4 separate regions of the Homo sapiens genome follow, and all the other regions are linked to region 1. The links come from fine-mapping of genetic effects on gene expression. A gene starts in region 1. Each other region holds a variant in brackets. All regions are shown on one strand. Distances are between the middles of the regions. Region 1 holds the start of SUGP1 (SURP and G-patch domain containing 1). Region 2 holds the start of TM6SF2 (transmembrane 6 superfamily member 2). Region 3 overlaps GATAD2A (GATA zinc finger domain containing 2A). Region 4 overlaps GATAD2A (GATA zinc finger domain containing 2A).

The links.
Region 2: its variant is fine-mapped to the expression of SUGP1 in whole blood (TOPMed, PIP 0.98).
Region 3: its variant is fine-mapped to the expression of SUGP1 in whole blood (INTERVAL, PIP above 0.99).
Region 4: its variant is fine-mapped to the expression of SUGP1 in whole blood (TOPMed, PIP above 0.99).

What each region holds. Positions count from the first base shown.
Region 1 is chr19:19,315,564-19,323,695 of GRCh38, reverse strand. It overlaps SUGP1 (SURP and G-patch domain containing 1), which reads left to right and starts at 3,187. Exons shown (of 14, transcript NM_172231.4): 1 at 3,187-3,233; 2 at 7,103-7,274. The coding sequence starts at 3,200. MAU2 (MAU2 sister chromatid cohesion factor) reads right to left here and starts at 2,867. Exons shown (of 19, transcript NM_015329.4): 1 at 2,561-2,867. The coding sequence starts at 2,836. RefSeq lists a silencer at 2,487-2,708 and enhancers at 2,080-3,051, 2,760-3,249, 3,270-3,319.
Region 2 is chr19:19,272,959-19,281,090 of GRCh38, reverse strand. It overlaps TM6SF2 (transmembrane 6 superfamily member 2), which reads left to right and starts at 7,790. Exons shown (of 10, transcript NM_001001524.3): 1 at 7,790-7,970. The coding sequence starts at 7,876. It overlaps SUGP1 (SURP and G-patch domain containing 1), which reads left to right. Exons shown (of 14, transcript NM_172231.4): 9 at 800-906; 10 at 1,701-1,878; 11 at 2,295-2,401; 12 at 3,212-3,357; 13 at 4,015-4,144; 14 at 4,417-5,058. The coding sequence ends at 4,443. The variant A/C (reference allele first, on the strand shown) is at 4,558.
Region 3 is chr19:19,408,278-19,416,409 of GRCh38, reverse strand. The region is part of intron 1 of GATAD2A (GATA zinc finger domain containing 2A); the gene reads right to left. Among named protein-coding and RNA genes, the nearest start is that of GATAD2A, 6.7 kb to the right of the region's middle. RefSeq lists a silencer at 5,306-5,395 and an enhancer at 5,506-5,615. The variant A/T (reference allele first, on the strand shown) is at 4,249.
Region 4 is chr19:19,481,490-19,489,489 of GRCh38, reverse strand. The region is part of intron 2 of GATAD2A (GATA zinc finger domain containing 2A); the gene reads right to left. Among named protein-coding and RNA genes, the nearest start is that of TSSK6, 30 kb to the left of the region's middle. RefSeq lists enhancers at 1-227, 1-530, 1-664, 531-1,314, 4,452-5,236 and 1 more. The variant C/T (reference allele first, on the strand shown) is at 3,273.

The sequences.
Region 1 (8,132 bases):
GTCTTTACAAAAAACACAAAAATTAGCTGGGTGTGGTGGTGCGTACCTGTGGTCCCAACTACTCAGGAGGCTGAGATGGGAGGACTGCTTGAGCCCAGGAGGTCAAGGCTGCAGTGAGCTGAGATCACGCCAGTGCACCCCAGCCGGGGTGATGGAGCGAGACCCTGTCTCAAAATAAATAAATAAATAAATAAATAAAACTGGCCAGATGTGGTGACTCACACCTATAATCCTAGCACTTTGGGAGGACAAGATGGGCGGATCACTTGAGGTCAGGAGTTCGAAACCAGCCTGACCAAATGGTGAAACTCTGTCTCTACTAAAAATACAAAAATTAGCCAGATGATGTGGTGCAAGCCTGTAATCCCAGCTACTCGGGAGGCTGAGGCAAGAGAATTGCTTGAACCCACGAGACGGAAGTTGCAGTGAGCCAAGACCGCGCCACTGCACTCCAGCCTGGTGACAAAGCGAGAATCTGTCTCAAAAAAAAAAGAAAAAAAATTATCTGGGGCTGGGCGCAGTGGCTCATGCCTGTAATCTCAGCACTTTGGGAGGCCGAGGGGAGTGGATCACAAGGTCAGGAGTTCAAGACCAGCCTGGCCAATACTGTGAACCCGTCTCTACTAAAAATACAAAAATTAGCTGGGTGTGGTGGCGCACACCTGTAGTCCCAGCTACTCGGGAGGCTGAGGCAGGAGAATCACTTGAACCCGGGAGACGGAGGTTGCAGTGGGCTGAGATCCTGCCATTGCGCTACAGCCCCGGCAACAAGAGCGAAACTCCGTCTCAAAATAAACAAATAAATAAAATAAAATAAAATAAAGTCTCCTTCCAACTTTTCAGTCTGTGAAACAAAGATTTGATCTATTCCTCAAGGCAAGTTGTTACTAGCTGAGGGTGGGCTTGGATTTACCTCAGATTAATGAGTTTTTAAAATCTGAGTTGATTCTTTTCAATAATTTTCTATTCAAGCAGGACAGAGCTGGGTAAAAGGTAAAAGGGAGGCAGGGGTCTGACAGGATCACAGCGCTGCTGTGAGAAAAAAACGACTCCACAGCCTGAAATTTTATTATTTTTTCCTTATTATCTTTTTTTTCTGAGACAGGGTTTCACTGTCACCAAGGCTGGAGTGAAGTGGCGTGATCACTGCTCACTGCAGCCACGACCTCCCGGGGCTTAGCTGATCCTCCCACCTCAGCCTCTGGAGTAGATGGGACTACAGGCCCGCGTCAGTACGCCCAGCTAGTTTTTGTATTTTTTGTAGAGACGGGATCTCACTGTGTTGCCCAGGCTGGTCTCAAACTCCTGGGGTCTAGTAATCTGTCTGCCTCCGCCTCCCAAAATACTGGGATTACAGACATAAGCCACTGAGCCTGGCCCTAGAAAGTTTATTAAAGGGGCCGGGCGCGGTGGCTCAAGCCTGTAATCCCAGCACTGTGGGAGGCCGAGGTGGGCAGATCATGAGGTCAGGAGATGGAGACCACCCTGGCTAACACGGTGAAACCCCATCTCTACTAAAAAATACAAAAAATTAGGCAGGCGTGGTGGCGGGCGCCTGTAGTCTCAGCTACTCAGGAGGCTGAGGCAGGAGAATGGCCTGAACCCGGGAGGCGGAACTTGCAGTGAGCCAAGATGGCACCACTGCACTCCAGCCTGGGTGACAGAGCAAGACTCCGTCTCAAAAAAAAAAAAAAAAAGAAAGTTTACTAAAGGGCAGAATGACAGCCACTCTCCCGCATTCTTTGAGGCACCAAGATGACACAAATCAAGTTGGGTCAGGGGAGGGACTCACTCTGACGGAAGAGGATGGACTGATGGATGGTAGAAGTCACCAGTGGATGGAGAAAAAGCAGGAGCTGCTTTTAGTTCCCCTAATACTGAAACTGAACAGCGGGGCCTGGAATCCAGAACCCCTGTTTCTCCTCCTCATAGGCCTCAAATGACCAACTCCAGACTCCGGGTCTCAGCTTCCCTCGTACGACACCAGGCATTATTGATGGGGGCACAAGACCCTCCAAAAACCACGATTACCAAACTTCTGTGTCCAAGGAGAATCATGCCCTTCCAGGTTCCTGAGAGACCAGACTTCAGATTCCCGGGAGAATGCCAGGGGTCTCGCCTTCGCCAACCCCTACCCCAAGTCACTTTAGGTGGAAGCGTTTGGGGCTGATGCTCCGGAAGCTGAACCAGGAGGAGCTAATAGCTTCAGGACCCTGTGATGTCCCCATCGCCACCAACAGGTGGGATCCTCCTGAAAACCAGACGATTTGCGGATCCTGTTGCTCCCAATAACAGGCAACTTTCAGAGTACGGTGACGGGGCTCCTGGAGCCCTGTCACCAGAAACGGGAAATAAGGCGTGGGGGGCGAGGCTTTCGTGTCCCTTGAGAGGCTGGTGGCTTTGGGGTCCGGCAGAGGCGGGTGGGGGTCCTGCGGCTTTGACGGAGGTCGCGCCCCCAGGTCGCCGAGGAGCGGCCCCCCACCCGCCGCGGTCGCGACCCGTCAGCCCAGATCTTGCAAGGAGCCCGCGACTCCTCCCTCGCGGCCCGGCCCGCGCTCACCGCCTTCTCCAGGTGGCTGCGCGCCTGCTCGCTGTTCTTGGTGTGGTGATAGAGAACGGAGCCCAGCTGCAGGTGTGTACGGGCCTCGATGCGCTGCGGCGGCTTGAAGGGGAACACGGCCTGCAGGCAGTGCACGCACAGGCGGATTTTGGGCGGGCTGGAAGTGCGGAAGTGCTCAGCGAAGCCCAGAAGCGCCAGGTACCACGAGTCGGCCGCCTCGGCCTGCGCAGCCTGGGCCGCCGCCGCCTGGGCCGCTGCCGCCGCCTGAGCCGCCATTTTGGCCTCCACAACAACAAGCCGCCGCCACAGGGAGGCGGAAGCAGGCGCGCGAGACGGGGCCGGGCTCTCCTCGCGGCTTCCGCGAGATCTGCCGCCCAAAGCATCCTGGAACATGTAGTTTGTATTTGGGATGACTGCCGCTCCGGGAAGGTGTAAAAGGGCGACGCCGTTTGGTTATCGTGACTGGGACTTAGGCATCGCTGATAGGCTGAGGCTTCCGTTTCTGGAGGTTAAAAAAAAAAAAACCCAGTCGTTCACGCAGTAATAGGGCGAGTCTGACCGAGGCGGACTACATCTCCCATCAGGCGATGCACACTATAACAGGGCCCCTTAAGGGGCGCCGGAGCATTGTGGGATTGGATGAGTCTCAAGATGGACAACCGGGATGTTGCAGGTAACAGCCCCCGCCTCCTCTCAGGCGGCCGCCTGGGTCCCTGGGGCTAGGTGTCTCCCCTGACTCCTCGGGTCCGTCCTGCTGCGACCCGTGGATCCCTCGCTTCAGCCCCGGGGCAGCCCACAGCGTCGGCTTCTGCACCTCTTGGTTTCTCGAGACCCCAGACCCAGGTTGCTGGCCGCCCCCGCTTGGTTTGCTGAGGACGCACGGATCTCCGTAGAGGCCGCCACCCGGCTCGGCCCTGCGTCCCGTTTCCGAAACAACCGCCTTCAGGGCTGCTCCAACCTCCGTTCCCCAATACGGCGACAACCTTGGGCTGTCCCTGCACCCCTCTTTTCGTCGCAGCTGGCCTCTGGCCTGTGTCCCGCTTTCTGGAAAAGCTGCTTTTCCGAAGTGCTTTGAGGCTCCCTTGACACACTTTCCCGCGTCTTTTGACCCTCACTTTGCTGCAAGCCTTGGCCTTTCTGCTTCCCCAGAATAGAATGCATTTACCCATCAGCAGATACTTAGGGCGTGCTCACTGTGTGCCAAGCAGTGTGCTGGGCGCTACGCATGCAGCGGTGACCGAAACAGGGCCCTGCCTTCCTGGAGGTTGCTTTCTACTGGGGTGTCAGTGCATTAATGAGAAAATATTTACAAAAACTTACGTATGATGTGAGGTTACGTATGATATGATCAGAGTGGAGGCTTCTGATATTGGGTAGTCAGGAAAGACCTTTTCTTTCTTTCTTTCTTTTTTTTTTTTTTTTTTTTTTTGAGACAGGGTCTCACTTTGTCGCCCAGGCTGTAGTGCAGTGGCTCACTGTGGCTCCCTGGGTTCAGGTGATCCTCCCACCTCAGCCTCCCTAGTAGCTGAGACCACAGATGCGCGCCACCACACAGCGAATTTGTGTGTTTTTTGTGTTGCCACGTTTCCCATGCAGGTCTGGAATTCCTAGGCTCAAGCGATCCTCCCATCTCAGCCTCTTAAAGTGCTGGGGTTACGTAAAGGTGTGAGCCACCACACCTGGCCCAGGGAAAGGCCTTTTCAAGCAGAGGACATTTGAGTTAAGACAATGAATGCCAGCTATGGGAATCCCTGGAGGGTGGAGCCTTCCACACAGAGGGGGGCCAGTAAATGCAGAGGCCCTGGTAGGATGGGCTTGTCCTTTTGAAGAATGTCAAGGATGAAGCAGAAGGGAGGGGAACCATCTGGCGGGGCCTTGAAAATGGCCTTTTAGAATTCTTTTTTTCTTTTTGTTGAAGCGGAGTTTCGCTCTGTCGCCCAGGCTGGAGTGCAGTGGCACGATGTCGGCTGACTGCAACCTCTACCTCCCGGGTTCAAGCCATTCTTCTGCCTCAGCCTCCTGAGTAGCTGGGATTACAGGCGCCGGCCACCGCACCTGGCCAGTGTTTTTGTGTATTTTTAGTAGAGACGGGGTATCACCATGTTGGCCAGGCTGGTCTCGATCTCCTGACCTCAAGTGATCTGCCTGCTTCAGCCTCCCAGGTGCTGGGATTACAGGTGTGAGTCACCATGCCCGGCTCAGACTTTTAAAATTTGGATTTTATTCTGAGTCCCATGGGGAACCTCTGAGGTGTCTTCCCTGTCTCCATACTATCACCCTAGTCTGAAGACATCATTGTCTGTTGCTTGGAGCCAGTGAGCCTCCCTGGTCTTGTTGCCTGTGGATTCTCTGGCCAGAATGATTACCTAGTAGCCAGGATGAAAATAAAACGACCCTGTGGATATTGGCTAGGTGTGGTGATCCATGCCTAAAATCTCAGCATTTTGGGAGGCTTAAATGGGAGGCTCCCTTGAGGACAGGAGTTCAAGATTAGCCTGGGGAACATAGCAAGAACCTGTCTCTACAAAAAATAAAAGAAAATAGCTAGGCCTGGTAGAGTGTGCCTGTAGTCCTAGCCACTCGGGTGGCTGAGGTGGGAGAATCTCTAGAGCCCAGGAGTTTGAGGATGCAGTGAGCTACGATCATGCAACTGCACTCCTGCCTGGGCAACTCAGCGAGACCCTGTCTCAAAAAAACAAAACAAAACAAAAAAAACGGCTGGGTGTGGTGGCTCACGCCTGTAATCCCAGCACTTTGGGAGGCTGAGGTGGGTGGATCACTTGAGGTCAGGAATTCGAGACCAGCCTGGCCAACATGGTGAAGCCCCATCTCTACTAAAAATATGAAAAAATTAGCCAGGCATGGCGGCAGATGCCTGTAGTCCCAGATACTCGGGAGGCTGAGGCAGGAGAATCGCTGGAACTCTGGAGGTGGAGATTGCAGTGAGCCAAGATCGCGCCATTGCACTCCAGCCTGGGGGAAAAGAGCAATACTTCATCTCAAAAAAAAAAAAAAAAAAAAAGAAGGCTGGGTTCGGTGGCTCACGCCTGTAATTCCAGCGCTTTGAGAGGCGTAAATTGGAGGTTCCCTTGAGGACGGGAGTTCGAGACCAGCCTGGACAACATGGCGAAATCCTAACTGTACTAAAAATATAAAAATTAGCCAGGTGTGGTGGCTCACGCCTGTAATCCCAGCTACTCAGGAGGCTGAGGCAGGAGAATCGCTTGAACCTGGGAGGTGGAGGTTGCAATGAGCCGAGGTGGTGCCACTGCATTCCATCTTGGCTGACAGAGTAACAGTTCGCCTCAAAAAAAAAAAAAAAAAAAAGCCACTGGGGCACGGTGCCTCATGCCTGTAAATCCCAGCACTTTGGGAGGCCAAGGTGGAAAGAATGTTTGAGACCAGCCTGGGCACTATAGCAAGACCTCATCTCTATGAAAAAATTTAAAAATTAGCCAAGTGAGGTGGTGCATGCCTGTAATCCAAGCTATTTGGGAGGCTGAGGTGGGAGGATTGCTTGAGCCGGGGAGGCGGAGGCTGCAGTGAGCTGAGATCACACCACTGCACTCCAGCCTGAGAAACAGAGCCAGACCCTGTCTCAAAAAAAGACCCAATGGATCTTGCATTCTTCATCTTAGTGCTTCTCCATCACTCCCCAAAGCCCTTATAATAAAGCACAGATGCTCTGACATGCCTCACCTCTGCCTGTCCCTGGAGCAGGCCCCTCTGACACTGGGCACTTGCTGCTCCTTGGATGTACCAGGCTTCTTCCTGCCTTGAGCTTTCACATCTGCTCCTTCTTCTGCCCAGATCATCTCCCATTTGGCTTTTCATGACGCTGGCTTCTTATTTGTTTTTTCTGGTTTAAATGTCTCCTCTTCTAGTGTTTATTTTCTGCCTGTCCTACCTGCATATGTACTCTCCTGTTACTTTTTCACCCTTTTTTGGTTTTCAGCAGAGCTCTTACCACATTGTGCACTTACTTTTTTTTTTTTTTTTGAGACAGAGTCTTGCTCTGTTGCCAGGCTGGAGTGCAGTGGCACCATCTCGGCTCACTGCAACCTTCACCTCCCTGGTTCAAGCAATTTTCCTGCCTCGGCCTCCCTAGTAGCTGGGATTACAGGCACATGCCACCATACCCAGCTAATTTTTGTATTTTTAGTAGAGACAGGGTTTCACCACGTTGGCCAGGCTGGTCTCGATCTCCTGACCTCAAGTGATCCGCCTGCCCCTGCCTCCCAAAGTGCTGGGATTGCAGGCATGAGCCTCTGCACCAGCCCGAAAGTTACTTTTTTATTATGGGTCTATTGTCTTCCCAGCCTGAAGCGAGTCCCACGTGGGCAGAGACCTGTGTTCTCTTGCATAGCACGTAGTAAGTACAGGGTATGGTATGCAGCAGGCACTCTGTAAGTGTTTGCTGAATAAATGAACTAATAGACATATAAATTAATCTGAACATCAGTTGCTCTCTGGCCTGTCACAGCTTCTTGGGGTGTTTGTGGAGTAAGGGTGATTTCCGACGTACTCCTTTTCCCTCCCCAGGAAAGGCTAACCGGTGGTTTGGGGTTGCTCCCCCTAAATCTGGAAAAATGAACATGAACATCCTTCACCAGGAAGAGCTCATCGCTCAGAAGAAACGGGAAATTGAAGCCAAAATGGAACAGAAAGCCAAGCAGAATCAGGTGGCCAGCCCTCAGCCCCCACATCCTGGCGAGTAAGTGCCTGCTGGGGCCTGGATGGGGCCTGGATGTGAGTCTTTGAGGGTCACCAGCACAGGGTTTGGCTTGTGAGGGCAGTCAGCATGTGCTTGCACCCAGCCATAGCCTGATGATCCAAGGAATGACCCAGATGCCCTTGGGAGGCTCACTGTGGCAAGAGAGAAATGAGGGGTATGTGGAAGCCCAGAGGACAGCCTGCCAACTCATCCACTCAGCAGTTATTTACTGCCAGCCAGCTGTGGTGCAGAGGGAAGGGGTATAACAGAGTAAAAATCTCTGCCTTGAGTTCAGGTGTGCTGCCTCACACCTGTAATCTCAGCCCTTTGGGAGGCTGAGACAGAGGATCACTAGAGGCCAGGAGTTTGAGACCAGCTTTGCCAACATAGTGAAACCCCATCTCTACTAAAAAATACAAAAAATTAGCTGGGCATTGTGGCACGTGCCTGTAGTCCCAGCTGCTCAGGAGGCTGAGGCACGAGAATCTCTGGGATCTGGCAGGCAAAGGTTGCAGTGAGTTGAGATCGTGCCACTGTACACTACCCTGGGCCATAGAGTGAGACTCTGTCTCAAAAAAAAAACAAAAAAAAACCTCTGCCCTTATGGGGTGACAAACTACTGGCAAAGGGATGCAGGTGCCGCCCCAGAGCTCCTGGAAGATAACAAAGGCAGTGTGTTCCCAGGCCCCGTGGCCACAGTAAGGCCACAGAGCTTTGCATCCTGAAAGCCCAGGTGGAGCTGGCCCACTGAGGAAGCAGAGAAAGGCCTGCCCAGCAGAGGGCAGGAAGGGGAGAGAGCCCATATGTGGAGGGCCAGCCTGAGCTGCTGTACCAAAGGGGCTGTCCCTTAGTGGATGG
Region 2 (8,132 bases), 43 kb after region 1:
ATCCCTCAGTGCCCTGTAAACCAAGGAAGGACTAAGAGTGCAAATGTGGGCCATTCTTAGCGGCAAAGCCCGAGTGTTGATGAGCTGGAAGGACCCAAATCTTTTCCCTTCCCAGAGGGCCCGCTGCACCCCTTTGCTCACCTTCTCCCCCGGGAAGCACCGCACCGCCCGAGGGGTGGTGGTTTCTGCCACCCGGATGGGGCTGTTGCAGCATCTTTCTATGTGTCAGTGTTACTGGAGCCTGCCAAGTTCCACAGCTGATGCCAAATTAAATGTCAGCTGCTCTGAGGATGGTTGGCTGCCTCCCCTGAAGGAGCTAAGGGAGTCGCACAGCTGAGTCTTACGCCAGACTCTGAATCTGTGCGCGCTTACACCTGGTGTCTGTTAGCAACGGAGCTGCCTTCTGAGAGCCCGTTTGTGCGTGCGCCCATGCATGCTGCCCACATGCCGTCTCAGCTCTCTTGTCTCTGGCTCTGCAAATTCCTGCCCTGTCACTCGTTAGCTGTGTGACCCTGAGTGAGTCCCGGAACCTCTGATTCTTGGTGTCCACATCTGCAATGTGGTGGTGCGTAGAGCCTGGCTGGAGAGGTCACAAGGACGTAAGATGCGGGGGTGCACGTGGCAGCACACAGCGGGACCCCGAGGCCGTCACGTACCACGTGGCACTGACAGTAATGATATGAGGTCCCCGTGTGCCTGGAGTGTCATGAAGGTGTGAGACTCACAGCACACCCCAGCGCAGGAGCGAGATCGGGGTGCACCTGTCAGGCTCTGACTACCCTGTGTCTTTGGTTTCCAGTTCAGGACCTCAAGGGGCTCGGCTATGAGAAGGGGAAGCCTGTGGGTCTAGTGGGCGTCACAGAGCTTTCAGACGCCCAGAAGAAGCAGCTGAAGGAGCAGCAGGAGGTAAGACTGCGGGGACAAGGGGACGGGGACATGGTCGGCGCCCATAGAGTGTTGTCCTCTACCCCCGGGTGCAGCGGTCACAGGGGTTCATGTGCTTCGCCAAGCTCCTGTGTTCAGGTGGAACCCATGGCCAGCGGGGAGGCTTCCAGGCAGGCAGGTCCCCCTGCCCCAGTAGGTGGCATGCCACCCCCCACTGCACCTGAGTGGCCTCTCAGCCTGCCTGGGAGACCACTGGCCCTTGGGGCGGCCCCGGTGGTCTGTGATCCTGGCCTGAGCTTTGTGGCTGCTTCTCGCCGCGCTCCAGGGCTGGTTCCCATGGGAGAGTCTACGTTGATGTTCTTTGTCCGCAGTCCTCTGTCGTGTCTAGTGCAGGACCATCCTGGTCAGCACAGGGCACCCTGAGGGACTTGAGGCCTCCCAGTTGTAGTTGGGCAGTGTCGGTGTTGGCTCCCCTGAGGAGCTGCAGGCGCTTGCCTGTCAGTCCCTGGGGTCAGCTCGCTGTGACCCCTCCTCCAGGCCCGCAGCCCCGTCACATCACCCTTGACCCTCCCAGGGGTCAGGACCCTGAGTCACCCTCATTCAGTGGCCAAGAGGTCCTCCGTGCTCCACACTGGGATTTAGAGAACCCAGGGCAGTACTCAGTACTTGCTAGAGTCCTTGCTCCAGTCCTGCCCAGGGGTCCAGATGAGCCACGTTCCGGCGGGGGATGCCCAGCACTGGAGGCGGGGAGCAGGAGCGGGGCTCCGGCAGGCCACAGCACCGTGCCCTGGCTCACTGGCGAGTGTGCCCTGCAGATGCAGCAGATGTACGACATGATCATGCAGCACAAGCGGGCCATGCAGGACATGCAGCTGCTGTGGGAGAAGGCAGTCCAACAGCACCAGCACGGCTATGACAGTGATGAGGAGGTGGACAGCGAGCTGGGCACCTGGGAGCACCAGCTGCGGCGCATGGAGATGGATAAGACCAGGGGTATGTGGGGCAGCGGGGTGGGCCGGGCTGGGCTGGGCATGGCCCCCCTCACCTGCCCTGGAAGGTTACCTGGATGCGCCACACGTGGTCTTGAGCTGCCATCCTGGTTTAGCCCCCAGCCTGCTTCCTGTGGCTGTGAGGCCTGGAGTGAGAGGCTCAGTCTCTCTGGGGCCTAGTTTTCTCCGTGGTGAAAAGGAGCAGTCCTGACATCGTGAGGGTGGAGAGCTGCACAGGGTTCACTAAATGCTGGGCTGCCTCACCAGGCAGAGGCTCGGGCTGGGGTCATGGCCTAGCCGCCTCCTTCCCTGGGGGCCCCAGGCTCCCACTGAGCCTCATACCTGTGCCCTGGGAGCCACCAGGCCTGCTCCCCTCCTTCCTGCTTCTCCCTCTTCTCACCTTTCTGCTTCTCTGAGCAGAATGGGCCGAGCAGCTGACAAAGATGGGCCGGGGCAAGCACTTCATCGGAGACTTCCTGCCTCCAGACGAGCTGGAAAAGTTTATGGAGACCTTCAAGGCCCTGAAGGTGAGCCAGGAGGGGCCCTAGCTCCAGCCTCTGCCACATGCCAGCCCCTCCTGTAGCTGCCTCACCCTGCAGGTGCCCAAAGTAGCCTGGCTACCCTCTCGATCACAGCAGGAGCCAGGCCTTTTCGCTGCAGGAGGCATCTGTTAATGACAGGCGCCGTCTGTGTAGGGAATTAGCAAACAGCAGCTCAGCTGCTGCCTCAGAAACATTTCCTGGGGCTGCGGGGGAAATTTTGCTTCCAGTGGAGCCAATTAAGTGCAGTTTACAGGCAAAGTGTTTCTCCGGCAGAAGTCCCCACGGACTGGCCTCTCCAGAACCAGAGTTTAACATTCTGCCTCTGCTGCTGTTGGGCTCCTGAGGAGAGAGGGCTGACATGGCACGTCCCCCATTATCTTTTTGAGGTTTTTTTATAAAACTGTTCAGGGCCTGATAACCTCATTAGTGAGGTGGTAACCTCGTTGTCCATCTCTTATTAGTACCTTGTACAACAAATTGCTCTCAGGACATGAACACGGGGCTTCTCTTTGCCAGTGAACCATTGCTTTATCTCAGGTGGATAAGGCCTGTGTAACTCATCCTCTTGCCCTTTTGACTTGGCCACCAGGGGTGCACAGTTTGGCACTAAGGCCCCGGGGACCCTGAGAAGCAGGAGGAGCTTGGTCTGTTTGTTCTCAAGGAGTCTGATCTGGTGAGAGGGAGGCAGATGGGCCACTGGTCCCAGCACTGATTGAAACCAAAGGCAGAAGGTTGGATTTGGGGGCCACCACAGCCCCAGCCCTGGTGGGTGACAGCTACCTCCTCACCTTGCAGGAGGGCCGTGAGCCTGACTACTCAGAGTACAAGGAGTTCAAGCTGACTGTGGAGAACATCGGCTACCAGATGCTGATGAAGATGGGCTGGAAGGAGGGCGAGGGGCTGGGCTCAGAGGGCCAGGGCATCAAGAACCCAGTGAACAAGTGAGTGTGGCCTTGTGGGAGGGCATGGCCATGAACTTGGGGTCTGTGGGTCCCCTGCCGCCTCCCCATTCCCACCCCTTTATGTCATCGCTTTTCCCTTGTGGCAAAATGATCACAGCACCCCACTGCACACCCCTTGTCAGGCACAGGCCTGCAGTGCAGGAGGCCATACGGGCTGGGTCCTCCCCAGTCCCAGGGCCTCCTTCCGTCCCCTCATGAGTATCTCCAGGCCAGATGGGGTGGGTGAGGGTACAGATGGGTCAGGCCTTGTCTGCCTTGTGAAGGGCCTTATTTGAATTCCCCATGAGTGCGAAACCACTCCCAGAGATGGGCAGGAGCTCTCCCAGGTGTGACCCTGGCCCCGAGTGCCCCCTTCAAGGCTGTCCTTGAGTAACCATCCTGCCATCCCAAGAGCTGCGACAACTTGCACTGTGGGCTCCTCCTTCCTGTGTGGGACCCTGGGGCCTAGGCCCCCCCCCCCCGCCCGCCCCGGGGGTCTCCCCTCCTTGACCATTCAGGTTCAAGCTTCTCTCTGTGCAGATATGTCCCAGCCCAGCCCTGCACCCGCGGGAGGTGCTGTTGAGAGCCCAGCTGTGCCCGGCCCCCCGGCCAGAGTTCTGGCCCCAGGTCCCTGCTCACATCCTCTTCTCCCTGTAGGGGCACCACCACAGTGGACGGCGCTGGCTTCGGCATTGACCGGCCGGCGGAGCTCTCCAAGGAGGACGACGAGTATGAGGCGTTCCGCAAGAGGATGATGCTGGCCTACCGCTTCCGGCCCAACCCCCTGGTACGCATGTCCTCCTGGGCTGCCTTTGCTCAGTCGACAGGAGAGGGTGGTGGTAGGAACAGAAGGCTCCCTTCCTTCCTCAGTCCAGCCAGGCTGGGTCTCACCAGCGAGCCCCCTACCACCCACCTGCATTCAAGCCCCCACCCGTCCCCCAAGCCTGCCCTGCCACCTCAAGGGTGCGGGCTCAGCTGCCTCCGGAAGGTTCCAGACAGGAGGAACTGCTGTCTTTAGTGCTAATCCCCTCCTCCTGTTATCTGTTTTGCCTTCCACAGAACAATCCCAGACGGCCTTACTACTGAGTGTTCTGGAAATACATACTTTCTGAATGACCAACCGTCCCTGGACTGTGGAATGTTCCGGCCTGCATTTCTGCCCACCCCTTCCGTTGTCACGAGTGCCGTGCCGTGTAATAA[A/C]GTCCCAGTGCTCATCCACCACAGATGCCTGGTCCTGTTGCAGGAAGCCCCTCCTGTTAGCAGCGGGATGCAAGATGCTGTCTCGGGGCTCTCCTTATTGGCCTGTGGAGTCTCCATCCCCGCTCAGCCTGGGTTGCACTGGAGGGGAGGAAGAAAGTTGTTTTCAGCATAGTAAAGCTGGAAGGCCAGGTGCAGTGTCTCACCCCTGTCATCCCAGCACTTTGAGAGGCCAAGGCGGGCGGATCACTGGAGGTCAGGAGTTTAAGACCAGCCTGGCCAACATGGTGAAATCCTGTCTCTACTAAAAATATAAAATTAGCTGGGCATGGTGGTGCACACCTGTCGTCTCAGCTACTCGGGAGGCAGAGGCAGGAGAATGGCTTGAACCTGGGAAGCGGTTGCAGTGAGCCAAGATTGCGCCTTTGCACTCCAGCCTGGGCAAGAGAGCAAGACTCTGTCTCAAATAATAATAATAATAATAAAGCTGGAGACTTGGCCACACCTGGGCTAAAGGAATGTCAGGAACCTCCGAGCCTAGCACTGTGCTGCAGAGGGAGGTTGGGGAGGGGTCTCCAGGCAGGGCCCCACCTTCCCTCAGACCTGTGGGGGCAGGTGGCTTCTGGGCACACCCATGTGCTCTCCTGGCAGGTGGTGCTGGCACGGCCCAGCACACAGGTGTTGGCTGTGGCCCTTCAGGTCCCACCAGTGTGGTAGGCACACGAGTCCCTGGGGCTTGTGTCGTTAGGGGACAGCCGCATGGATGCATGGATGTGCCATGCCAACATGTCAGGCAGCTCCTAGAAGGAAGGGCCTCAGAGCCGGAGGTTTTGAGGCAGGAGGGTAGCCCAGGCCACAGTGTGTGCCAAGACCCCCACATCTGCCCCAGGGCCAGAGCCCCACATTTGTGCCTAAGTCACCCTGGGGATCTTGTTAAGCTGCAGCTGCCGAGTCAGCTGGTTGGGCAGGGCCCTGGGAATTTGCATTTCCATCTGCCCCCACCCCCTCCACACACACCCAGTGGGTGCTGCCCAGCCCCTGCAGGCACCAGGGGCTCCCTATTCACATGCTTGGCATGGAGTCGGGCTCCTGGGCCAGCTTGTGTTCACACAGCCATTCAGCAAACACTAGGTGCCAAGTGTGGGGACCAGGTGGACAAGATCTACTCCAGTCAGCCAGGCTGCTGGGGATGAGGTCTGAGGCTGCTACTGAGAGGAACCAGGGAGCCGTGGTGGGGCGGTCTGCAGAGTGTCTCAGTGGGGTCTGAGACCAGGGAGGTGCCAGATGCAGTGGCAGAGCCAAGGCTGGGGTGATATACCACCCTTTGTTCTTTCCTGACGCTGTGGCTGAGGCAGAGCAAAGAGTAACATTGGTGGGCTTGGCCTGGGTGCCCATGAATGAGGGCTGCCCAGAAGGCAGTGGGCCAGGACCCTGAGCACAGCGGGGTAGTTCTCTGCAGCCAGTGGTTCAGGGAATCCTGGCACTGGGTCCCAGGCATTCAGCCATCCAAGTCACTTCTCAGTTCTCAGCAACCTGGAGGCTCACCAGGCTCAGGGCATGGACTTTACCCCTTGCCAGGGGACGAGGCCTCCAAGTGCTGTGTGCGTGTGCAGGTGCATCCTGTACACGGGACAAGGCCAAGCCCCTAGGCTGAGCTGGGCACAGGCACCCTGGCCTTGTGTGGAGAAGGTGGGGTGGGGGTGGCAGGCAGGGCTGCCTGGAGGAGGGGATGCTGGGGCCCGCTTACAAGAAGGCTCATTTTACAGACAGAAAGCAGGCCTGGGGGGTGTTGACCCTGCTAGAGTTGGGGAAAGTCCAGGGGAACCTGAACTTCACCCATGGGCAGTGGACACCTGGGGAAGGAGGCTGAGTCAGACCTGCGGCCAGAAGACCCTCTTGTGGCCCAGTTCAGGAAGACCTGTGACCCAGTTGGCATCAAGCTAAGGGGCTGCGTGCAGAATGGGGCCTGAGGTAGGGGCAGTGGTTAGAATTTGTGCCAGCTGCAGACTGGGGTCCCGCAGGGCAGGCGTCAGGTGGGCATGGTTCACCTTGCTGTCTGCAGCATCCACAAGTACTCCACATGGGCCAGAGTCTGGTTGGAGGGGGTGACAAAGACAGATGGTCTCCTTATTCTCCCCCCCAATACTGTGGCCCCCTCCCAGCTGTTCAAAACCTCCCACAGCCTCTCACAGCTGTCTCGCTTCTCATCACACCCCAGCAGAACCGACCTCCTTTCCACTGCTCAGTTCCAAGCCTGAGCCACTTTCCTCCCTGCCAGGAACACCGTTCCCAAACTCTTCACCAAACTGGCTCCATCCCGATATTCTAACTTCAGCCCCCACCCGCTAGGACCCCTTCTACCCTCTCCCCGAAATGAAGAACCCTAAACCCGGGACTAGCCTGCAAAGGGACAGCCCCGGAGTCAAAGCCTCACACTTAAAGACCCCTCGCAGTGGCTCACGCCTGTAATCCCAGCTCCTCGGGAGGCTGATGTGGGAGGATCTGTTGAGCCCAGGAGTTTGAAACCAGTCTGGGCAAAAAAGTGAGACCTCTGTCTTTACAAAAAATAACTAGCTGCGCGTGGTGGTGCATACCTGTAGTCCCAACTACTTGGGAGGCTGAGGTAGGAGGATCTCTTGAGGCTGGGAGTTCAAGGAGGAGGGCCACTGCACTCCAGTCTGGGCCACAGAGTGAGACCTCTCAAAAAACAAACAAAAAAACTTCACACCTGCCTGGAAACACGTTTACATTTGTGGCCACCTTATGAAAACTCAAATCTAAGCCCACTGAAAGGCATTTTGCACCCAAGAGCTGGAGGTTGCTCCATCCGTGCGCACAGGGAATGCCGACTTGATCTTTGGGTGGGGATGGGAAACTCTGGGGAATGCAGAGGTTTAGAAGCGCAGAGTCCAGGAGAAAATTTCCTTAGAACGAAGTTGTGGAGGCAGGGGAAAGAGGGGGCACGCCAGGACCTCCAGGGCGCACCCCTTGGCCTAAGAGCAGAAGCATCCCGAGGTGTTGTGTCCCAGCCTTTGACAGTGAGGGAAACTGAGGCTGAGTAGCGGGACGGCCATTGGAGACGAGGGTGTCGATGGTGAGGGGCGAAGGGGCGGGGCAGCTGCCAGGGGGAGGGCCGGGGAGGGGCCTTGGAGGCTCCCTGGGAACACGCAGGGCGGTCACGGCGGCCTGCCCAGGGCGCAGCGGGGTCGACCTTTGTGCGGGGCGGGTCCCTGGCAGCCTCGGCCCGGACTCGCCGCCAACGAGGAGCCGAGCGCCCTGGAGAACGCGTCGGGGCTGAGCCGGGGTCCAGCAGCCGCCGCTATGGACATCCCGCCGCTGGCCGGCAAGATCGCGGCGCTGTCGCTGAGCGCCCTCCCGGTGTCCTACGCGCTCAACCACGTCTCGGCGCTCTCGCAGTGCGTGCGGAGAGGGGCCAGGGCGGCCTTGGGGACAGTGGGGGCGGGCGGGGGCGGGGAGGACTGGAGGTGGGCTGGAGGGAGGATGCGCGGTCCGCGGACCTGGCTTCTGCGAGCCCTGCGCCCCAGCTCAGCTCCGACCCGGCAGGATTGGGGTGGGCC
Region 3 (8,132 bases), 93 kb before region 1:
GTCTTGAGCCAAGATCCTGGGGCCTTCCGGAACCTGCCACCACCCCCACCCCAAATCATCTCTCATCTGAACAAAACATGTTCAATTTCCTTAACCAGGTCTCATCCAGCATCCTTGGCAGTGTTAAGGCCCTCGCTCTTGCCCGGGACTAACACAGTCAACCACTGGAGCCCAGTGCAGGACCTGATATTTAGTTGGCTCCTCCCATTTCCATGTGCTCCTTTTTTGTATCTTTAAATGGTCACCCACATATCACTTGAAGGATGTCTACAAATTAAGTGCAATTACATCTTATAATAGATGGGGACCTGTAATCCCAGTGCTTTAGGAGACTAAGGTGGGAGGATGGCTTAAGTCCAGGAGGTCGAGGCTATAGTGATTGTGATCATGAGCCTCTGCACTCTAGCCTGGGTGACAGAGCAAAACCATGTCTCTTGGGGGGGAAAAAAAACCATACAGGGAAAAGTAGTTTTATGCTCTTAAAATGTAAAGTCGGCCGGGCGTGGTGGCTCATGCCTGCAATTCCAACTTTGGGGGAGGCCAAGGTGGGTGGATCACGAGGTCAAGGGATCAAGACCATCCTGGCCAACATGGTGATACCCTGTCTCTACCAAAAATACAAAAATTAGCTAGGCGTGGTGGCATGTGCCTGTAGTCCCAGCTACTTGGGAGGCTGAGGCAGGAGAATTGCTTGAACCGAGGAAGCAGAAGTTGCAGTGAGCCAAGAACATGCCACTGCCCTCCAGCCTGGTGACAAAGTGAGACTGTCTCAAAAAAAAAAAAAAAAAAAATATTAGCCCGGCATGGTGGCGCACGCCTGTAATCGCAGCTACTTGGGAGGCTGGGGCAGGAGAATCGCTTGAATCTGGGAAGCGGAGGTTACAGTGAGCCAAGATTGTGCCACTGCATTCCAGCCTGGGCAACAGAGTGAGACTCCATCTCCAAAAAAAAAAAAGGCTGGGCGTGGTGGCTCACGTCTGTAATCCCAGGGCTTTGGGAGGCCAAAGCGGGCAGATCACCTGAAGTCGCGAGTTCAAGACCAGCCTGACCAACATGGAGAAGAAACCCTGTCTCTACTAAAAATACAAAATTAGCTGGGTATGGTGACACATGCCTGTAATCCCAGCTACTCGGGAAGCTGAGGCAGGTGAATTGTTTGAACCCAGGAGGCGGAGGTTGCAGTGAGCTGAGATCATGCCATTGCACTCTAGCCTGGGCAACAAGAGCAAAACTCCGTCTAAAAAACATAAAAAAAAAAAAAGTAAAGACATCACCTACTCAACACTACTACAGTTTTTTGGGGTTTTTTTGGGGGGAGGGGGGCGGGGGCAGGTCTCACTATGTTGTCCAGGCCAATCTCAAACTCCTAGCCTCAAGCAATCCTCCCACCTCAGCCTCCCAAAGAGCTAAGGTTACCTGAGCCACTACACTTGGCCACTATAGTTTTTTTTTAAGGCTGCCCTGAGAAACCAGAGGCAGCCCTAAGTTCTCCCTCCCCATGTCCTGCCCCATCCTCACCCTACAGACACCCAAAATGACCTCAGGACTCAAAAAAAAAAAAAAAAAAAAAAAGGGGGCAGGGTGTGGTGGCTCACACCTGTAATCCTAGCACTTTGGGAGGCCAAGGTGGGCAAATCACTTGAGGCCAGGAGTTCAAGACCAGCTTGGCCAACATGGTAAAACCCCATCTCTACAAAAAAAAAAAAAGAGCTGGGCGTGGTGGCGTGCGCCTGTAATCCCAGCTACTTGGGAGGATGAGGCACAAGAATCGCTTGAACCGTGATGCAGAGGTTGCAGTGAGCCGAGATTGCACCACTGCCCTCCAGACTGGACAATGGAGCAAGACTCTGTTTCAAAAAAAAAAAAAAAAAAAAAAAAAGACAAGGCCCTGAGGAAGGAAACTGACCAATGGACCTACATAAATAAAGTAAGAAGGAAGCTAAAACAAAATTCACCAAGCCACAAAGACATCAGTAAGAACAACAGAGATCTGAAAGTCTAATTCCAGGAGAAAACAGGGATATATCCTCATTCCTTCTGCAAGTCAACCTTGGGCAGGCCACTCCTCCTCCGCTTGAGCCTCAGTTTCCTGTTTGTGCCCAGTGTTGGGTTCAGCAGAGCACAGTACACAGAAGAAAGTCCCAGGTAGAATCCTCAGTTTGTCTGCTACCCAACTCCCAAAAATAGTTATATTTCTAATCCTATAACCTGACAGATACAAACTAACAATAAGACTGCAATTACATTTGAACCTATACTCAGTATATGTTAATATACTTGCCCAAGAAAACTTCAAAAGCAGACCAGGCAACTCCTACCACCAACATCTGAGGCTCCCACCCCCTCCCCAGACTTCGGCATCAGGAAATGTTGCTTGTACAGTCAGAAAAGAGACAACAACAAAAAGACTCAACACTAAAAACTTGACCAAAAGTTTGGGGAAGGGAGGCAGGAGACAGATGGCCCACATACAAACTACCGAGGTCAGTTCATCAAACGAACGTATTAATAAAAACATCAAACACAGCCAGGCACGGTGGTTTACACCTGTAATCCCAGTACTTTGGGAGGCCAAGGTGGGTGGATCATCTGAGGTCAGGAGTTCGAGACCAGCCTGACCAACATGACGAAACCCCATCTCTACTAAAAATACAAAAATTAGCCAGGCAAAGTTATGGGTGTCTGTAATCCTAACTACTCGGGAGGCTGAGGCAGGAGAATCGCTTGAACCCAGGAGGCGGAGGTTCAAGCAGTGAGCCGAGATTGCGCCACTGCACTCCAGCCTGAGCGACAGAGTGAGACTCCATCTCAAAAAAACAAAAACAAAAACACCAAACACACCAGCAAACTCTCCCTGGGTTAGAGTGGCTATAAGAGAACCCTAGGAAAGGAGCTGACTACAGAATCCTCTGAAAGAACCACCACTGAACGGGGTGGGCATGAACCCTCGGCAAACCCAGGGACACTACATGAGAAGACAGAAAATGAAGTTCAGGTGTTCCGTCAATGATACGCAAGTCCTGAGAACAGCACAGGTCTCGAGAGTGACGGAACCAATTCAATCGATGCCTTCAAACCAAGAATTCAGTTCACCACTCTCCTACTTTCTCCAGCCACACTTGAGCAACAAGGAAAAATGTTCCTCTGCGGATGTGAACGAAGGTGGTAGCAGCAGTTTTCAAAACTTGCTGGCAGAGTGAGCCTGTGCTAAACACACAAGAGAACTAAAAATCTGCTGTCACTACCACCAAATTCCACCAACTTGAAACCCCAGCAACAAGAAGACAGATGCTCCTCAACTTATGATGGGTTTATTAGAATGCAGCCCCACTGGGAGTAGAAAATATCAAATGCATTTAACACAGCCACTGGTCCCATTTTACAATTATTCGACTTAAAATTTCTCAACTTTACCATGGTACGAAAGGGATCTGTGTTCAGGAGAAACTGTTACAAATCAAAGGGAGCTCCTCGACTTACAATGGGGTTACCTCTGATAAACCCAACATAAAGTTGAAAAATTTTAAGTCAATCCATCGTAAATTGGAGGCCTACTTTACTGGCCTAAAACCTGCCCACCTCCGAGGTCAGGGCAAGCAGCCGTCTCTAAGGTAAGAATGTGTTGAGTATAGATTCACAGCCACTGACTCAAAGGTTAATTGCACAGAATGGCTGTGACTGGAGAAAATGTTAAGTTGGTATTATTTGTAGAGTTAGGGCCACAGGGTTTTTCACATCCCTTCCAGATAATCTGATCAGACCTTTTTTATCCCCCCCGCAGACAGAGTCTCACTCTGTCGCCCAGGCTGGAGTGCAATGGCATGATCTCCTCTCACTGCAGCTTCAACCTCCCAGGCTCAACCGATCCTCCCATCTCAGCCTCGCAAGTAGCAGGGCCTACAGATGCATGCCACCACACCTGGCTAATTTTTTTTTTTTTAAGAGATGGGGAATCGGCCGGGCACGGTGGCTCACGCCTGTAATGCCAGCACTTTGGGAGGCCGAGGCAGGTGGATCACAAGGTCAAGAAATCAAGACCATCCTGGCCAACATGGTGAAACCCCGTCTCTACTAAATATACAAAAAATTAGCCGGGTGTGGTGGCGGGCACCTGTAGTCCCAGCTACTTGGGAGGCTGAGGCAGGAGAATGGCATGAACCCCGGAGGCGGAGCTTGCAGTGAGCTGAGATCGCGTCACTGCACTCCAGCCTGGCTGACAGAGCAAGACTCCGTCTCAACAAAAAAATT[A/T]AAAAAAAAATTAAAAATTAAAAAAAAAGAGAGAGAAAAAAAAGCGGCCTGAGACAGCCCACCAAAAAAAAAAGAGAGAGAGAGAGAGAGAGATGGGGGATTGCTACATTGCCCAGGCGGGTCTCGAACTACTGGGCTCAAACAATCAGCCTGCCTTAGGCTCCCAAAGTGCTAGGATTACAGACGTGAGCTGCCGCGCCCGGCCTTGACCTGACTCTTAGGCCTCCAAATTGTTAGCTTGCAGTAGGATTCTGTTATAAAGAAAACCAAGCTCCTCAATCTGAGTGTTACATTATATGTGATAACTGAGATATGAGGTGTTCAAGAATCACTGTGTAGTTGACATCTGGGGGGAGAAAGCTTTTTGGCTCTGAGGTAAATGGAGAGGCAAAGGCTGGAATACCCCTGACTGCCTGTAGACACTTTCCACTTGTCCTCACAGCATCCTGTTAGGTCAAAGATGCTGTCTCCGCCAACATAAGAGAAAGCTGAGGCCAGGTGATCAGGTGACCCACCCAACGCTGAAGAGTGGTAAACTGCATATCGTCAGTGACAAAGCCAGATCTGTCCAACTCCAAGCTGGCTGGAGAGCTGTCAGTCTGAAAGGCAAGTCCAGGAGGATGAGATTCACCCTGGCGCTCCCAGACACCACTGCAAGTACCATCAAACCACCTACTTCCAGCCTCCACCCAGAGTCCACTCAGTGACAGGGACCCCTCTCAGTTCTCTAAGGAAGGCTCCCATGACAGATCTGCCCGGCAAACAGCTTCCCATCTCACAGATGGAAGTCCGGATGCTGGCTTCCACAAGCCCTGGGCCAGGAAAGAGGCTGCCTCCTGGCTTGGGGCACAACCAACCCAGGCATTCAGTATCGTCAAGAAGGCCCCAAGGCAGTGGAAAAAATAGACAACGTCTGAAATCAGAAAGGCTGGGTTGGGTCCCAGCCGCCGAATAATGAGCAAGGTGACTATGGCAAGTATCACCTCCTGTGGGGAACTTTGCCTTCTTCACAGGAACATGGAGAGAGGGGAATAGGCTGGGGCACAAAGCTGAGGCATGCGCCCCAGTGTGGCTCCAAAGGGGGCATGCAGACAGTGACAGTTTGCCATGAGGGTGGTGTCATCCCCCACAGAAGAGGTGGGGCAGTTGTTAATGCTTGTGAACTCTGGCTCATCTGTTACAGTCATAACAGTACTCACTGAACTGCAACATGTGGAACACACAGGCACTGGGGTCGATCATTTGCACTTGTTATCTCACTCCCAACACAGCCTTCCACGGGAGATAGTAAGTACCCCCTTGACAGAAATGGGAAACAGGGGTGATGTTCAACAAGGTCTTTCGCTAGGAAGTGGCTGGGCAGAGCTCACACCAGGCTGTCTTGAGGCAAAGCCAGGGCTGTCCTGGATGCCACTAGAGACAGGCTGCTCAGCAATAGGCACACGGCCACACTTGGCAAAAAGCAGGTGCCCCCTAGACTCAAAGTGGCCTCCTTGGCACAGGAGGAGCTGCTGTGCCACCATAATGCAGCAGTATTTTTAAAGTGTGTGCTCGAAGGCACCACCTTATTTAGGCTACGTTTCAAGGTTCAAACCAGAATATCTAACCGGCAAGGCAGGCCACGCAGCGCCAGGTCCTGAGACGGAACTGCAGGAGGAATAGCTGAGGGATTCTTCAACAAATCCTTCAAACAAGTGGAATTTCTCCCCAATCCTGTACCACATGGCCACACCCCTCCCCACAGGCATAGCTACTATCTTTGAGGCCAAGCAGCAGGAAAGCCCTGAAGCCTTGACCACTCCACCCACCACCCCCATCCCCCACCCCCTGCCCCAAGAACTCCCACTTTGACTTGCTGGGAGCCCTCCTTTAGAGTACTGCTCATCTCCTGCCAGCAAATCCTATCTCAGAAGCTAGCCTCCAGCATCCTCGGAAATTGCAGGTCTTCAGCCCTTCCATATAAGGAACCCTAAAATCAGGAATCAGACAGAAAGGCAAGTTCCCTGACAAACTCACCTGTGAAGGTGCCTCTGGAGGCTGAGGAGAGACAAAGGGGGTACAGCGTACAGAGGAGCTGCAAGGGGCCCTGGCAACTGTGCAAACTGGTGCAAACGTGTGACATTCTCACTGAGGGCCCCTCTCTCCCACACCTAGAGGGTTTCGTGGATTCCCAATCACTTCCTGAGGCTACCTAAAGGTATTCTATTAGGGTAAATTCCTTTGTCTTCTAAAAGACTAACCTACATTTCCATCAGACAAAAAGAGGTCACAAATATAGTCTGGAAAGCACAAGGTGGGGGAGGGGCAAGAAGCCAACGGTCTGACACTCTCTTGACAAAAAAGTCCCAGATCCTGTTTGCGGGGATGCTGGGGAACCCATGCTCGAGCGGGATCTGTCCCCAGTGGTACCTTTGTTTCTGACAGTACGGGTCTCACTATTTCCACCTCGCTGCAACCACCAACCACTTCAAGATCCGTCTTTTTTTATCTCAACCTTCTTATTTTTAATACACTGCCTTCCTAATTCCATTCAAAGACATACCTTTGCACAGTTAGCACTTAAGTCCTGTTAACCTGGAAGACCCACAGTCTGAGGCCAGACTGTGGAAAGCTACCTCCCGAAGCAGCTCAGATAACTCAAAAGCATCCATTCTAACAAACGACCACACTTAGCAGGCAGCATAGTTCTGTATGCCTCAAACTATGACATTGCCAACTTGTTCTTCTGGTTCTGCCACACTTCCCAACCAGACAAGGGTTAGGAGGAAATCCCAGGGATGCTCTATTACCCCAGGACAGCTGCTCGAGAAGACTTCACCCACTCACCTATTTCATAATCTTCCTAGTTTTCTACAACCAGCATAAATTAACTCAATTATGGGGGGGAAAGGTCTAGAGAAAATAGCCCTGCCTGTTCCATTTGATGGCACAGAAACACCCCGAGTCCAAGCAGGTAGTTCTCCAGAAAAGCATCTGAGCTGCCCAGGCTTTGAGGTGTCAGTACATGCTAATGATGGTCCTTAAACAAATTCAGTGGTAAGGGCCATTACATTTTTGTCTCTGTTGGGAATTCATATATCCAAAACTCTGCTGGTCATTCTTAATTTTCTTCCAAGAGAACAAACACCAAAAAAAAAAAAAAAAAAAGCCAACATTTCAAGAATGGCTTTACAACTTTACCAGCCACATTCTTCAGAGGCATCCTTTAGTCATCTGCTAAGACCCAAAGAGGTCCCGGCTGTGAGCCTCACTGCACCAGCCCTTGCCTTAATCCCCTTCAAGAGGGTCCCCCTTCTTGTTCTCTGACCCCAGTAGGAGAAAGGTCCTTTCGGGCTCACCAGGTCACAGTGTCCTTCTCTCCTTGATCCCTGTAAGTTTCCCCATGTTTATAAGATTAATTACGACTCCTGGCCCACTAATCTCACTATAAACTCTACTGAGGAGGGATTCCTCGCAGTGTCGAAGGCACAGTATGCACTCTGATATTTGTTGAATATATCAATCTAGAAATCACTACCTGCAATGCCAGAAATTCAGAAAATAAATGATGCAAAACAAGTCAGAGGAGCTACTGAAGAGTTGAAAATTAGAGTATTTAAAACATGTTTCCTCATTAAAAACATACACACACACGCAAAATACAGAGACACTAAAAAGTTTTCTAAAAAAGAAAAACTATTGCTAATCCTAATGTAGAGACCTTTATTGACATTCTGGTACAAATCCTTCCAGGATTTTTTCCTACCGAAAGTAGCATTATATTTTTCCCTCACTATCAAAATATAAGATTATAGGATTTGCCAAATGATACTGCATTAATAGAGATGACTTGACATTTTAAAAAATGATGTCATCTGAGTGGAAATAACAATGCATCCGCCAGG
Region 4 (8,000 bases), 170 kb before region 1:
GGGAGTGAACTTCCTGTATGCTAATCAGGCCACCAAAAAGTCATGTGACAAAGGCATTTCCCTCCTTGGTCACATGACCCTTTAACTGTGCCTTCCAACGTGAAAACCATGGCAACGGCCAGTTCCAACCGGTTTGTGACACGCAGCCTTCATTTTGAGAAGGGAGGTAAAGGTTCAGGTACTGTCAGAAAATGGAGGCGCCAGGCTCACCCCAGGGCTGTGGAGCTGCAGGCACTTCCTGTGTGGCGCCAGCCCACAGGGGACTGTTGCTGCACCACAGGCTCCAGTCACCTCTACATACACCGCACACAGCAGGGTCACTGGCCCCTCTAAGTTTCTAAAATGAAAAACTTTGTTAAGCTCACTTTTTAAAGGAGAGAGGCTTTAAGAGTCTCAGTACTTTCTAAAAGAGATCTTTAATTCAGGAAAAAGAGCATGTGGCTCAAAATGATTGCAGGCATTATTTCAGGGAAATATTTAATTATAAAAACTGTCTAAAGTAAACAAAACCAGTGGAAATCTAGCCCAACATGCTGAGAGGGATGGCATCGTGGCCCAGGGACAGCGTCTGCCATTCACTCCACAGCAGCCGTCCCGGGCACCAAGTTTATTTGGAAGTGATGTGATAGTTCAGGACAAATCCCATAAGCCCGTCCTGCCCATCTTGAGAAGCCTTAATGTAAAACGTAGTGATCAAGAGATTTTATGTGACCTACAAAAATCCCTGGAAGCAGGCCAGGCTGTTATCAGCGTAAATGGTCTCACCCGCTCGCTGACACGCACCACCCCCACTCCCTGACCCGCTGGCACTGGCCCTGACCTCACAAGCACAGAAATTCTGTTACCTGCCAGGAACTTCCATAGAATTTCCTGGAGGAGAGGCCGGGATTATAAACTTAAATTGAGACACGATCCCACTTCCACAGCAAAAGGTTATGGCTTTCAGCTGCTCAGCAACCAGCGGCCAGTACGTGGTTAATATTTAGTGTCCCCTCAGCCAGTGCCGGGAAGGAGCTGTCCTTGGAGGCTGGGACCTTTGTGGTTCTCTGAACAGGCCTGCCTGGTATGCAGGAAAGACATACCCCTCTCCCTCATTCATTCATTCATTCATTCCTTACATCTGCTGAGAGCTCATTTAAAAAGCAGGTGCTATAGCAGGCAGTGGGGAGGAACCCCTGGATAAAAGGAATTTCTGTCCTTAGGGTTCAGTCTACCAGGATGGACAGACACAACAGGGGAGCGGCAGGTGGGGGCAAGGCTGTAGGTGGGCTTGGGGCTGGCCCCGTGAATGTCTGACCACCGCTGTCACCGCCATAGCAGCAGGGCAGCTTCTCCGGAACTTGTATAAATGAAGCGTGTCCTCCTTGCCCCAGACCTGCTTGATCAAAGTCTGTATTTCAGCAAGATCCCCCAAGTCTTGCACACACTAGGGAAGTTAGGGATGACCATGACCTGTAGCTCGTGAGGCCTCGGTACAAGAAATCCTCCTCCAGGCTGGCTTGGGGAGACAGGCAGGGCCCAGCAATGCCTTCTCCAGCCACAGAACCATTTCCCACTAGAACCTTTCCTCCTCACCTCTTTCAGGCCTAGCAGGGTGGGCTGCTGGCTGTGTGCAAGGGTGGGATGAGGGCTCTGCTAGAGCCAACACCAGCCCTGCCAGCTCACTTGTCCCTTGTGCAAACACTCATCTTGGGCTCACCAGGCCCTACCTGACATGAACCAAGCTGTTAACATCCCCCGCCCTCCTGGGGCCTGGCCCACAGACATGGCCCAGCATGGCCATGTTCTGCCTGCAGAACATCCCTCTTCAACATGCCTCAGGAAGCCTGCCCGGCCCTGTCCCCTTGCCTCGGGGTGAAGGTCATGGCAGAACTCGGGGTTCCACTCGGGGGAGTGCAGGTCTGAGCAGAAACCCCCCAGAGCTTCCCAAGAAGGGCTGGCTGGTGGGTCTGTGTTCCTTAGCCACCCCCAGCCCAGTGACTGGCCCACCCACCCTCGGCCCAGCAAGCCCATCTAAGTGCCTTTGGCTCCCTGCACGGCACCCCACCCCACCCCCCTATGAAGATGAGCCCTCCCTCCCCCTGCCTTGCAGGGTGACATGTCAGCACCTGTCTGACAAGCAGGTTCCTGCACCCTGAGCTGGGGGCCATCACGACCTCCTTCAGGTGGGTGTGGCACCGGCACAGCACCCAGGGACCTATGGCCCCACTCTGTGGCACAGCCTCAGCTCCCAACAAGGGACAAGGTGTTCCCAGGACCAGATGAACAAAGGGCAAGGGGGTATCCAGCCCTGGGGTGATACCACAGCCCCAGAGAAGGGGGCAAGCCCCCATGTCCTCAGAGCCAGGAATCTCCTCCTAAGTCTATGATGGCTGGGGATGGGGGAGAGGCTGGCTGAGCCTGTCATGTGAGGGTGCTGAGCCCTGAGCCCGCATGCTCCTGTGGAGTAGCTCCTTTAGCAAGCTGAGGCCTGGAGCTCACTGGCCACCCTTGCCCAGCCTTGGACTTCAAACGACTGCCGGCAAGTCAGGCTGTGGAGAGAGCCCTCACCCAGTGAGCTAGAAGACACCTGGGTCTCACTTGATTCTGCCTCTTGCAAGTGACACTTCCCTCTCCATGGCTCCTGCATGGCAGGGCAGAGGAATCCCTGTCCCGCAGCCTCTCAGGGCTGCCTGGTGAGGTGAGACTTCAGTGCTGAGGAGGCTCGGGCACCTTAGACAGCCGGCTGGCTGCAGGGGGATCAGGCAGCCCTGCTGATCTGAAAGTGCTCAGCTCAGGCCTCGGGAACAGTGACCTTCCTGAGAGCACTCATAGCCACCCTGCATGCCCCTAGAATGGAGAGAGAGGTTTGCCCCGACAGCCTGCGTCCCCTGCACCAGGTCCCATTCCCACCTCGGAGAAGGAAATGGAGTTGTTTGCCGGGAGCTGCCCCAAGGCTGTCATTTGGTGGGGCGGGAGCATCCTGCTGTCAGATCACATGCTGCCTCTTCAGAGCCAGCCGCCCACATCCAGCAGCCCCCAAAACCCAGATGGCAGCAGCACCACGGCCTCCAGAGGCAAGATGGATGCTCTGACAGGATGCAACCTTGAAGGGGATAGGAGCATGCAGGAGTGATTTTCTTTTGGATTGTCGGGCCTTAGAAGACAGTACTTCCTGGGGTCCCCAACACTGGGAAGATAAGGGCAGCAAACAGGCCGCCCGTGCCTTCGCCTTGCAGCTCCCAGATGGAAGCAATGGCAAACCTGAAACATCTGCCTGACCTGACAGCTTT[C/T]TGAGGAAAGAGTGGGAGCCCATTACAGAGCAGACAATCTCAGTAAACAGGTCCTGAAATGTGACACCTGAACATTCACAAACCCCCCAAGGGCAGACTGGGTCTGCTGGGGGCCTGGCAAGGCTGGGGAGCGCCCACTTCCTCCTCTTGCCTTGATGGAGGTTCCAGGGTTGGGGCTGTGAGTTCAGGAGGAACCAGCGCCACGGACTGATGGACCCCCTTGCACGGTGGGCAGCTGCTTCCCTCGTGCACATAGATGTTGTGCTGCTGGAGGAAAGGGAAACTCACTCACAAGGATTTCTGAATTGTGTGTCATCGTGCGTCTTTGTAAAGCAACAGACCCTGGAAGCCAAATTCCTATTTTTTGAGTCCAAGCGCTTTTGTGGATATGAAGAAGGAGCCCTAATACTCATGGCTGACAAACCCTGTACACCAGACCAAACTCTGCAAGGCCCCCGGCCCATCTCTGCAGTCCTGAGGAGGCCGGAGGCTCTGGCTGCATCTACTCATAGCCCCCGTAGTACTTGACCTGGGCTGGTTTTATGGCTCAATTCCCAAACTACAGAATGCAGAGGAAGTGACGTGGCAGCCTTTTCAGGTGAGGTCACAGAAGCCTTGCAGCTTCTGCCTGAGCCCTCGGAATGCTTGCTCTAGGAGAGCTGAGGTCTGACTGCCCCAAACCACCACGGGATCAGAGGCCCACACTAGCCCCCGCTATAGTGGGGGAGATGGAGACAGGCACAGAGACTGGTCCAGCCAGTCCCAGCTGTTTTGGCCATCACATGTGAGTGATGAAACCACTGGGGACACCCAGCCCAGCTGACATGCAACTGCAAAGACCAGAGGGCCCCAGCAACAGTGCCCAGCTGGGCGGGACCAGCCAACCAGCAGAACTGACAGACTGAAAAACGTCAATACCTCGCTGCTTTAAACCACTAAGCTAATGGAGCCAATGGCCCAGGCTGGCCCCTGGGGAGCTAACCCATATCACTGTAACTCCACTTCCTCCCTCAGATGCTACCCTGGGACAAAGCAGGGAAAGAGAAGGGGGAAAGAAAGGGTTTACCCAAGTAACTACCCACTGAGCCTTAAAGCACCCCCTGACAGAGGGACCAACAGCAGCCTGCACAGAGGCCCCCCAGACAGGTGCAGACTCAAGATGAGAACAGCTCTAGGAAGGTCATGTGGGAGACCAGAGCTGCCCAACAATGAAAGGGGCTGAAGAGGGTCCCATGGAAAAGGAGGAGGCAGTCTGCAGGCTGGGAGGCACCCCAGCTTCAGGCAGCACCTGGAGTGAAGTGAGTCAAGCCAGAAAGCAATTCCTCATGCTTCATCCAGTCTCTCTACCTGCCTTCAAGAAACACTCCTAGAAAAATCCTATGACAGGCTGGGCGCGGTGGCTCACGCCTGTAATCCCAGCACTTTGGGAGGCCGAGGTGGGCGGATCACGAGGTCACGAGATAGAGACCATCCTGGCTAACACAGTGAAACCTCGTCTCTACTAAAAATACAAAAAATTAGCCAGGCGAGGTGGCGGGCGCCTGTAGTCCCAGCTACTCGGGAGGCTGAGGCAGGAGAATGGCATGAACCCCGGGGGGCAGAGCCTGCAGGGAGCCGAGATCGTGCCACTGCGCACTCCAGCCTGGGCGACAGCCAGACTCCGTCTCAAAAAAAAAAAAAAAAAAGAAAAAAAAAAAAAGAAAAAGAAAAATCCTGTGACAGAGAAAAAGGACACAGTTATCAGTTCCCCAAGTTAGTCCTACCACTGAGCAACTTCTTTTTTTAGAGACAGGGTCTCACTCTTGTCAGGCTGGAGTGCAATGGTGTGATCATAGTTCAATGTAGCCTGGAACTCCTGGGCTCCAGTGATCCTCCCATCTTAGCCTCCCAAGCTGCTGGGACCACAGGGAAACACTACCACACCTGGCTAATTTTTTTCAATTTTCAATTTTTGATATTGAGACAGGGTCTCTCACTCTGTTGCCTACGCTGGAGCACAGTGGCACGATCATGGCTCACTGCATTTTTAAAGTTTTTGTACAGGTGGGGTCTCGCTGTGTTGCCCAGGCCAGTCCGGGCAATATCTTGTGTGTCAGGCCCCTGTGTAGTGGGTGTGCTGACATACAATTCTGGCAGCATTCACTGCAACCTGGACGTGGGGGCTGCTCACTGGGACCCCACGCAGTCCTCCCTCCTTTCCCAAGGGGTGGTGTTCACTCAGAGACACTCAGCTGATAGAAAGAGAGCTCTGTTGTCTAGACACAGGCTGTGCCCCAAAACTGAGGAACTAGGCCGGGTGTGGTGGCTAACACCTGTAATTCCAGCACTTTGGGAGGCCGAGGCGGGCGGATCACGAGGTCAAGAGATCGAGACCATCCTGGCTAACATGGTGAAACCCCATCTCTACTAAAAATACAAAAAAAAAAAAAAAAAAAATTAGCCGGGTATGGTGGCGGGCACCTGTAGTCCCAGCTACTCGGGAGGCTGAGGCAGCAGAATGGCGTGAACCCGGGAGGTGGAGTTTGCAGTGAGCCGAGATTGTGCCACTGCACTCCATGCTGGATGACAGACCGAGACTCAGTCTCCAAAAAAAAAACACTGAAGAACTCCTGGGGGTTGTCTGGTGTCCTCCCGAGTCACCCCGCTCCCCATGCCCTGAGGCCCACCTGCTTCTCGCCAGCCGCAGCCCCTCTGCGGTTCCCTCAACTCCCTTCTTAGCATCCATCACACTTCTCCCGCCATGTAACTTGAGCTCCTCTTGGCTGGGATGTGAGAGAAAAGCCCAGAGCCTGCTTTGTGGGGCCCAGGAAGACAGAACACATTCTGCTTCTCTGCCTCAGAGGCCGTGGAGGTGAGCAGCTGGGATGGGATTTTTGAAACTCAGCCATCATTCTTCCTGGAGACTTCAGGTCCAACGACCGCTCTGGGAATCCATTATGGTGAGCACTGCCACAGTGCTGGCTAAAGAGCTCAGGAAAAAGAGAGAGAGTCTGTGTGGCTGGCCCAGACCTCTGAGCCCATCCCTGCCTGCTCTCCTTTCCCCAGTACAGAAGGGAGCAGTCCCAGGTCCCCAGCTAGAGCAGAGGAGCCCCATGCAGTGCCCGCCCCCAGCATCAGCACAGCCAGGGGGCGGCCAGCCGGCGCTGCCAGAACGCCTTCTAGGAACGCAACAGCCCCTGAAGTCAAAGGGCCCAGCCAGGGAGGCCCAGAGGACCTCACTGTGACAGGGGCCAGTCTCGGGGGCGTGCAGAATAGCTTGGCTGAGGGTAGTAGAGACAAGCCTAGGAGACCTTAGTACCATGCTCATGTGGGCCAGCAGCCTCTACCCGCCCACAGAGGCCACTGCAGCCCAATCTTGTCAGCAGCTGACACCATGGGGGAGGCCACATCAAATCCAGCACGTTCTGCTTAGAAATACAGGAAGACACATGCATTAGAAATGACTACAATCGAAGAAATGAAAGGCTAACTTTTCAGGTTTCAAAAACCCAGTAAACACCTGCTGAGCCTTTATGATGGCCATTCCTAGGCCAACCACCAAAATTCACCCTTCCACATAATCCTCTCCACAGCTCCATCATTACCCCCAGTTCCCAGTACAGGGAACAATCTTAAGGGAGGGCCACATGACTTCCTAAGGTCACACACCAGGACCTGCAGACAACCTGGGCTCCTACAGCACCTGAGCTCCTGTGTGGACCCCTCACTGTGCCAGGACCCTGGGGGAACCCTAAAGAGGAGGTGTGGGGTTAGAGAGGATAGGCCCCATGTGACTGGCAGCTGCTAATTCAGGTCATCAAATATCTTTATTTGGAGACAAGCGTCTCCCTCTATTGCCCAGGATGGAGTGCAGTGGCGCGATCTTGGCTCACTGCAAACTCTGCCTCCCAGGTTCAAGTGATTCTCCGGCCTCAGTCTCTCCAGTAACTGGGACTACAGGCGCCCACTACCACACCTGGCTAATTTTTGTATTTTTAGTAGAGACAGGGTTTCACCACGTTGGTCAGGCTGGTCTCAAACTCCTGGGCTCAAGTGATCTGCCCACCTCGGCCTCCCAAAGTGCTGAGATACAGGCATGAGCCACCGCGCTCGGTCATATTTTATTTTTTTTGAGACAGGGTCTCATTCTGTAAACCAGGCTGGAGTGCAATGGTACAATCACAGCTCACTACAGCCTCGACTTCCTGGGCTCAAGCGATCCTCCCACCTCAGCCTCCTGAGTAGCTGGGACTACAGGCACGAGCCACCACACCCAGCGAATTAATTTGTTATTTATTGGTAGATATGGGAACTACTATGTATTGCCCAGGCTTGGTCTTGAACTTCTTGGGATCAGGTGATCCTTCCACCTCAGCCTCCCAAAGTGCTGTAACAGGCGTGAGCCACTGAGCCCCACTATGTCATTTTTGGAATAGTGAACCTTTATTTATGGCTGAAGGATCCTGGACAGCCAGTAGCATCCACAAGCTAAGTCCCTGAGGTGTGAAGGAGGAGGCAGTGTGAGGACACAGATGTGGCCCTCGGACTCTATCAAGAAATGATAACTTACCCAAATCACAAGACAAGTCAGGGGATGGTCAGAAACAAAATATGGCCAGGTGCGATGGTTCATGCCTGCAATCCCAGCGCTTTGGGAGGCTGAGGTGAGAGGATGACCTGAGCTTTGGAGTTCAAGACCAGCCTGGGCAACACAGTGAGACCCTGTCTCTAAAAAAATTAAAAAGCTGG